2 linked regions of the Homo sapiens genome follow. The protein of the gene in region 1 interacts with the protein of each later gene in a biochemical or structural test. Each region holds a gene or a part of one and is shown in the gene's direction. Other genes may lie near its edges. The genes, in order: OTUD3 and PPARD.

The links.
Region 2: of the proteins of OTUD3 (region 1) and PPARD, one has a biochemical effect on the other in vitro, tested with the Homo sapiens proteins (one study listed by BioGRID).

Annotation. Positions count from the first base shown.
Region 1 is NC_000001.11:19,892,384-19,896,301, forward strand, and holds part of OTUD3 (OTU domain-containing protein 3), read left to right. Parts: intron 1-1,984; coding exon 1,985-2,097; intron 2,098-3,918.
Region 2 is NC_000006.12:35,422,335-35,426,252, forward strand, and holds part of PPARD (peroxisome proliferator-activated receptor delta), read left to right. Parts: intron 1-1,611; coding exon 1,612-1,814; intron 1,815-1,994; coding exon 1,995-2,445; coding exon of another isoform or gene 2,446-2,453; exon of another isoform or gene 2,454-3,066; intron 3,067-3,497; coding exon 3,498-3,745; 3' UTR 3,746-3,918. UniProt on the Homo sapiens protein: Ligand-activated transcription factor key mediator of energy metabolism in adipose tissues. Receptor that binds peroxisome proliferators such as hypolipidemic drugs and fatty acids.

The DNA of each region.
Region 1 (3,918 bases):
TCAAGGGCAGGGACTGTGTGTCTTTGTTTTGCGGTGTGGCAGTGCCCGGCATCTGGTAGACATTCATAAAGTGAATAAATGAATGGTTCACTATACTATTAAGGACCTGGTCACCCTTGCATCTGGCTGTATCTTTAGGATTATTCTTTTCTTTTAGACTGTGGCTTCAGAGAATCAGCAACATCTTTCCCCCAACTGTACAAGTATCCAGGTCAGAACCTGAGTATTCTTAATGCTTATCTTCCTCCCTTCTCTTACCCGTTCATTACATGTTATCACTCTACCTCAGCAGTTTTTCTTTCACTGCTACTACCCCGTAAAATCAGACCTCTGTGGCCATTTGCTTAGATTTCCTCCATACTGTTCGGTATCATTGTCTCTTGATTTCCTCAGTCTGTTTTCTACATAACAGCCAGAGGGGGATCTAAATGTGTTTTTCCTCTGTATAAAAGCTGTTGATGACTCATCTATTGACCTCAGGATAGAGCCCAGACTTTTTAGTTCTTCATGATCTGGGATTTTCTCATTTCTCTGTCCTCATCTCTTGCCATTCCCCCCAACATTTTCTCACTTCCTCCACCTCTCCATCTCAGCATTCTCAGTTCCTGCCATATTAGAGTTCTCTCTCTCTCTCGTGTCTGTCTCTCCTCTTCTTAGAACATCATCCATTTCTCCTGTCTTAACTCTTCCTTGTCCTTTGGGTATTAGCTTAGTTGTCTCAGTTGAGAAGCTCCTCTGATACACCTTACCTCCCGCTCCTCAATTCCACGTTGGCTTATGTTCACCACCTGGAGTTAGCCAAACTGCAGGGTTCGAGAACACAGTCCTTGCATGACTTCCCTCAACTTTTGGTACCATCTACAAGTTGGGGTCTCCCAGAACCTCCCTTAGGTTCCATAATATGGTAGTAGGACTCACAGAACTCACTGAAAGCTGTCATGCTAACAGTTACGGTTTGTTACGGGGAAAGGATGCAGATCAATACTACTAGCCAAAGGAAGAGATGCATAGGACAGTCTGGAAAGGTTCCAGACACGAAGCTTCTGTTGTCCTCAGGGCATATTCTCCTCATAGCATCTGTGTGTGACAGTACACATAGAATATTGTCACCTGGGGAAGCTCACCCTAACTTTGGTGTCCAGAGGTTTTTGTTTTGTTTTGTTTTGCTTATTGATTTACTGCATGTCTAAGTGGTTGAACTCAGTCTCCCCTCTCACCCTATCACCACCACAAAGGTCTGATGCCAGATGTGGTGGAGAGGCCCGTCATGAATAACAGACACTCTCATCACCTTTGGGAATTCCAGAGGTTTAGAAGTGACCTCCCAGGAGCCCAGGATAAAGGCCAGACCTCTCTTTGGGCAAGGCCAAATTCTTACTGCACATGCCCTTCCTGAAGTACTTGTGCATCATTAGTGCCTATCTTGTTTGCCCCTCACTGGTTGTGAACTCCGCGAGGGCAAATTGATGGAGTGGCTGAGAGCCAGGACCTTGGCATTGGGCTGCGTAGGTGAAACCTCAGCTCCACTGTGTACCAGCTCTTTGACCTTGGCACAGTTTTCAGCTATTCTGCATCTGAGTTTCCTCATGTATAAAATGGTTTGTATAATAGTACTTGTCTATGAGATGTGATTAGATCAGTGCTTGACACATAACAACCATTCACTAATGCAAGCTGCTAAGATTACTGTGTTTATTGTTATGTTTCTAGTGCCTTTTATTGAGTTAGTATATTGGAAGTAATCAGTAAACATTTATTGCAGAAGAAATAAATGGATCTTTGCTTTATGAATGACTAGTGTTCTTCTGAGTAGCAGTCTTGTATTGTTCAACTAGCTAAATTCCTAGACTCTGACAAAGTTAATGGACTTCTCAGATATATATCGTTGTTTCTTATTATTTGGAACTCAGTAAATACCAAAGCATGTTTGCATTTAGATTTTTCCACTATAAAGACGTCATTTTTCTTTCCTATTTCCATGCAGTGGCCAGTTTGGCAAAGCCTGGTACTTTTGCTGGCAATGATGCAATTGTAGCCTTTGCAAGAAATCATCAGTTGAATGTAGTGATTCATCAACTTAATGCCCCTTTGTGGCAGGTAGGTCACCTATTTAAACATTTATCTTAAGCTCTTATTTCTAAGTCAGCTTTGGGAATATCCGAAGATGAGGGGCTTGACCTGTGAACATTGAATTATGCGGAGTAACTTGGTCTACGAGCCTAACCAAAGACAAAAATCTTGTGATGGCTCAGAAGTAATCCCTGTGCTATGTACAAATGGAGTCCGGAGTATAATTTAGAAATCTTTTAAAATGCTATAAATATTCAACAGTCAGCTAATTGGGCAGGTTGGGGACAGAGAACCTAGTGTGGAAACACAGGCTGTCACCCCCTAAAGTCAGAGTGCTGCCTGTTGCTTTGTACCTCAGCTCCTAAAGACTGAGCATGTGGTTTCTGTTAATTCCCCACCCACTCTGCCCTGCTCCACCACTCACCGCTTTCTCACTTTTTCTAATTAAAAAGTTAAAATACAGTACTTGTAGAAAAGTTAGAAAATTGAAAAAGCTCGTAAAGAGAAAAAAATTTTATTAAAAATTATATTTAAAATTTTATTCAATCACCCAGAGAGAGGTTATTGCTGTTAATGTTTTAGTGAGTATTCCTGTCATTCACACACACTTGGCTATAAAAACATTGATACATAACTGGAAAGGAACATATCACAATGTTTTTACACACTTTTAAAACACATACACACATGTATCCATATCCACATATATACGGACACTTCTGTGTTATTAGCATAAAGGTAACAGTGCCCTTTTTTTCATATGACACCTGCATATATTCCTTTGTAAATTGCTCAGTCATAGCCTTTGCTGATTAAAAATAGGTTTATAGGGATATAATTTACATGTAGCAAACTTCATCCTTTTCCAAGTATACAGTTCTATGTGTTTTGACAAACACAGTCATGTAACCACCACTACTATCAACACAGACTAGTCTACTCTCGAAAAAGTTACTTCCAGGCTCTTTGTACTTTGTAATCACTGGCCCCCTCCCCCAATACCCAGCCTCTTGTAGCCCATTCTCTGATTTGTCCTTATAGTTTTGCCTTTCCAGAATGTCATATTAAAGAATGCAGCCTTTTGTCCCTGGCACAGTGTCCTTTTAACAAAACTATGCTACAACAAAGTAAGATAGTGCAGGGATGGTGAGAAATTTTACCTTATGGGGATAGAAGGAGCAGGAGTGAAACAGTATCTGCTTGTGTTCTTTGGGGCAGTGTTGCGGATGTCCTGACATCAGGGTACCAGATAGAGCTATCATATTTTCCATGGGGTTCTGTTTTCCAAGGGCGATGTTTGAGCAAAAATACTGGTTACCCCTTTGTTCTATTTTTTGTCTTTAAACTTACACTGTTTTGCAGAAGTTAACAAAATCATTTGAATACACAGCATAATGACCCTCACCTTGAAGGGGAATACTCACTACCAACTCAGTAATCAGCTTGCCTTTTCCTCCATTGATGACTTTTTTCCCAAAGTTTCTTAGTTACCTAGGTAGTTGTGGAAGACATTTCTGCATAGGTAAATTTTTTTTTGAATTTATTTCTGTAGTGTTCTCTTTCATAAATTCCTGAGCATTGAAAGTACATCTTTTTAAAATAAATTTACTAATATTTCCATTGGATCCCCCTATGTCTTCCTACCCCAGTGAAGCATCTTATAAAATTTAAGAACTGAAACTGCATTGGTTGCTACTTTCATGGTTATGGGCTCTTTCATTAATAAAGAGTAGGCTTATACTCACACCATGGAGATATTGAAACCTACATTTTTTTTCTGGTTATAATTGGAATATGTGCTCCTGTGAACAATCTAGATGTATGTAACATAGAATGTGAAAGTCCTCT
Region 2 (3,918 bases), on another chromosome or scaffold:
TGCCAAGGCCAGGTGGCCCTTCTTGGTTATAGAAGGCAGGCAGTAACCAGTAAGTAACCACATTTGTCAACTGCCAGGAGCCAGGCAGAAGTTTCTTGGAGGTCACCCACTCCCAGGAGACAGAGCCTTCTCTGCCCTGTGCTCCAGGCCTCCTGCAGAGCCTTGTCTTCGGACCCCAGGGTAGGATATTGCAAAGCCCACCTGTCCCCTCAGTACCTCTCTGAGTAAGACCCCTAGAGGACAGGGGAGAGCCTCTTGTGATCTCTACAGGCAGGTTAGCTGCTTGGCCAGCTTTTACCCAGGGATGCCCTAACTGCCTTGCATCTTAGAGGGTAGCAGTACCTGAGCCCTCCATTTGCGGCTCTCCTGGGTAATGGGGTCTGGCAGGTCTGGGTTTGACTCCTTTCTTAGGAAATCTCGGAACTGACTGAATCCCTCTCCTTACGCTAACTCCAGGAGAAGTCGAATTCGTATCCTACTCAATTACTAATGACAACAATTTTTGAGTGCTTACTATGTGAGGATTCTTATTTAATTGATCTAATAACTCAGTAAGTTTTAAAAAGTATTAGCCTCATTTTTCTGATTAAAAAAGAAAAGTGGCCAGGTGCAGTGGCTCACACCTGTAATCCCATCACTTTGGGAGGCCAAGGTAGGAGGATTGCTTGAGTCCAGGAGTTTAAGACCAGCCTGAGCAACATAGTGAGACCTCATCTCTACAAAAAAAAAAAAAAAAAAAAAAAAAATTTAGCCAGGCTTGGTGGCGTGCACCTGTAGTCCCAGCTACTCAGAAGGCTGAGGCGGGAGGATCACTTTAGCCCAGGAGGTCAAGGCTGCAGTGAGCCATGATTGTGCCACTGTACTCCAGCCTGGATGAGAGTGAGACCCTGTCTCAAAACAAAAAAAGAAAAAGGCTGGGCATGGTGGCACATGCCTATAATCCTAGCACTTTGGGAGGCCAAGGCGAGTGGATCACCTGAGGTCAGCAGTTCAAGACCAGCCTGGCCAAGATGGTGAAACTCTGTCTCTACTAAAAAAAAAATACAAAAATTAGCCAGGCATGGTGGTGGGCGCCTATAATCCCAGCTACTCGGGAGGCTGAGACAGAGAATTGCTTGAACCCGGGAGGCAGAGGTTGCAGTGAGCCGAGATCGTGCCACTGCACTCCAGCCTGGGAGACAGAGCGAGACTCTGTCTCAAAAAAAAAAAAAGAAAAGAAAAAGAAAAGTGAAGGAGTCTGCCCCAAGTCACAAAGCTAGTAAACTGCTGAGCTGGAACTCAAGCCCAGGCCTTTGTCACCAAAGTCTGTCTTACCCCAGCTAGCGTAGCTCAGTCACTCAGTAAGTTAGAGTCCTTGTGTGCTGGGCACTGTGAACAAAACAGACAAAATCACTGCTCTTGCAAAGATACACCAAAAAAAAAAAAAAATCACATCTTGTGGAGCTTGCGATCTGGAGGGGCCACCCCATCATTCCTACCTTGCTGACTCTAGAGCTTCTGGGGGCCTTAGGCTCCAAAAGGATTTGGCCCATGCACCTGTAAAGGGATGGGGATGTCAGAGGTGCTGGGGCCTGCCTGGGCTCCTTGCTGACTGCCCCCTTCCCTGTGCAGCTATCCGTTTTGGTCGGATGCCGGAGGCTGAGAAGAGGAAGCTGGTGGCAGGGCTGACTGCAAACGAGGGGAGCCAGTACAACCCACAGGTGGCCGACCTGAAGGCCTTCTCCAAGCACATCTACAATGCCTACCTGAAAAACTTCAACATGACCAAAAAGAAGGCCCGCAGCATCCTCACCGGCAAAGCCAGCCACACGGCGGTGAGTGTTGCTGCTGCTTGGCCTGGCAGCATCCTGGGCTCTGGGTCCCACTGCCGCCTGCCTGACTCCGGGAGAGCCAGGCCTTCTCCCTCCCTCAACTTCATGGTGCAGGCAAGGGACATGGGGAGCACAGGGTGGGGGTCTCCCGAGGCCTGATCTCTAACGGGGCCTGGTTTTCAGCCCTTTGTGATCCACGACATCGAGACATTGTGGCAGGCAGAGAAGGGGCTGGTGTGGAAGCAGTTGGTGAATGGCCTGCCTCCCTACAAGGAGATCAGCGTGCACGTCTTCTACCGCTGCCAGTGCACCACAGTGGAGACCGTGCGGGAGCTCACTGAGTTCGCCAAGAGCATCCCCAGCTTCAGCAGCCTCTTCCTCAACGACCAGGTTACCCTTCTCAAGTATGGCGTGCACGAGGCCATCTTCGCCATGCTGGCCTCTATCGTCAACAAGGACGGGCTGCTGGTAGCCAACGGCAGTGGCTTTGTCACCCGTGAGTTCCTGCGCAGCCTCCGCAAACCCTTCAGTGATATCATTGAGCCTAAGTTTGAATTTGCTGTCAAGTTCAACGCCCTGGAACTTGATGACAGTGACCTGGCCCTATTCATTGCGGCCATCATTCTGTGTGGAGGTGAGTGAGAGTGGGGCAGGTGGGCTGGCCTGGCACACCCAGTCGTCCTGGGGGTTGGCCCTCACTGCAGGGCACTGTGCCTGAGCTCTGACAGTGTGGGGAAGTGTCCCTGTGATCTTGGCAGTGGAACATGCAAGGCACTGACTGAGCATGCAGGATCAGCTCCATCTCATTATGTACGTAGATAGAGGTGGAGACAGGAAAAAGACTAAGCCAGACGTGGTGGCTCACACCTGTAATCCCAGCACTTTGGCAGGCCGAGGCGGGTGGATCACTTGAGGTCAGGAGTTCGAAACCAGCCTGGCCAACATGGTGAAACCCCGTCTCTACTAAAAATACAAAAAATTAGCCAGATGTGGTGGCACGCGCCTGTAATCCCAGCTACTTGGGAGGCTGAGCCAGGAGAATCGCTTGAACCCGAGAGGTGGAGGTTGCAGTGAGCCAAAATCCCACCACTGCACTCCAGCCTGGGTGACAGAGTGAGACCCTGTCTCAAAAAAAAGGAAAAGGACTAACAGGCAGTATGCTGTCATGTTAATGTGGGGTGGAAAAATTGTCTGCATTTTTTCTGCATTTTTAAAATTCCAACACAATAAATACAATAATAACTATGCTAACTAACAGTGGTCTAGAGCTTACTTCATGCCAGGCACTGTTCTTTTCATCGATGATGACTCACTTGATCCTCACAACAACCCTGTGCAGGAAGAATGTTTTGTGTCTCCATTTTACACATCAGAGAGGCTGAATGACCTGCCTATAGCCTCACAGGCAGACACAGGATTTGAATTAAGCATTGAGTCTCTTAACCACAATACTACGTTGCCTAATCGGGGGGGAGGTGGGGACAAATTGGCAAAAAACAAAAGAAGTGGATTAAGACCAGGGGTAGGGAGATTAGAACACCCAGTGGAGCATTGCTGATGGGACAGGGCTTGGTCTGTCACGGCCAAGGAGGCCTGCCGTCCCCTGGGCCAAGTCACCTCTTGGGGTGGAAGTAGGGGAGCTCCACTGCCTTTCTGAGCTCCCTGGCGTGCCCTGTGTCCCCACAGACCGGCCAGGCCTCATGAACGTTCCACGGGTGGAGGCTATCCAGGACACCATCCTGCGTGCCCTCGAATTCCACCTGCAGGCCAACCACCCTGATGCCCAGTACCTCTTCCCCAAGCTGCTGCAGAAGATGGCTGACCTGCGGCAACTGGTCACCGAGCACGCCCAGATGATGCAGCGGATCAAGAAGACCGAAACCGAGACCTCGCTGCACCCTCTGCTCCAGGAGATCTACAAGGACATGTACTAACGGCGGCACCCAGGCCTCCCTGCAGACTCCAATGGGGCCAGCACTGGAGGGGCCCACCCACATGACTTTTCCATTGACCAGCCCTTGAGCACCCGGCCTGGAGCAGCAGAGTCCCACGATCGCCCTCAGACACATGACACCCACGGCCTCTGGCTCCCTGTGCCCTCTCTCCC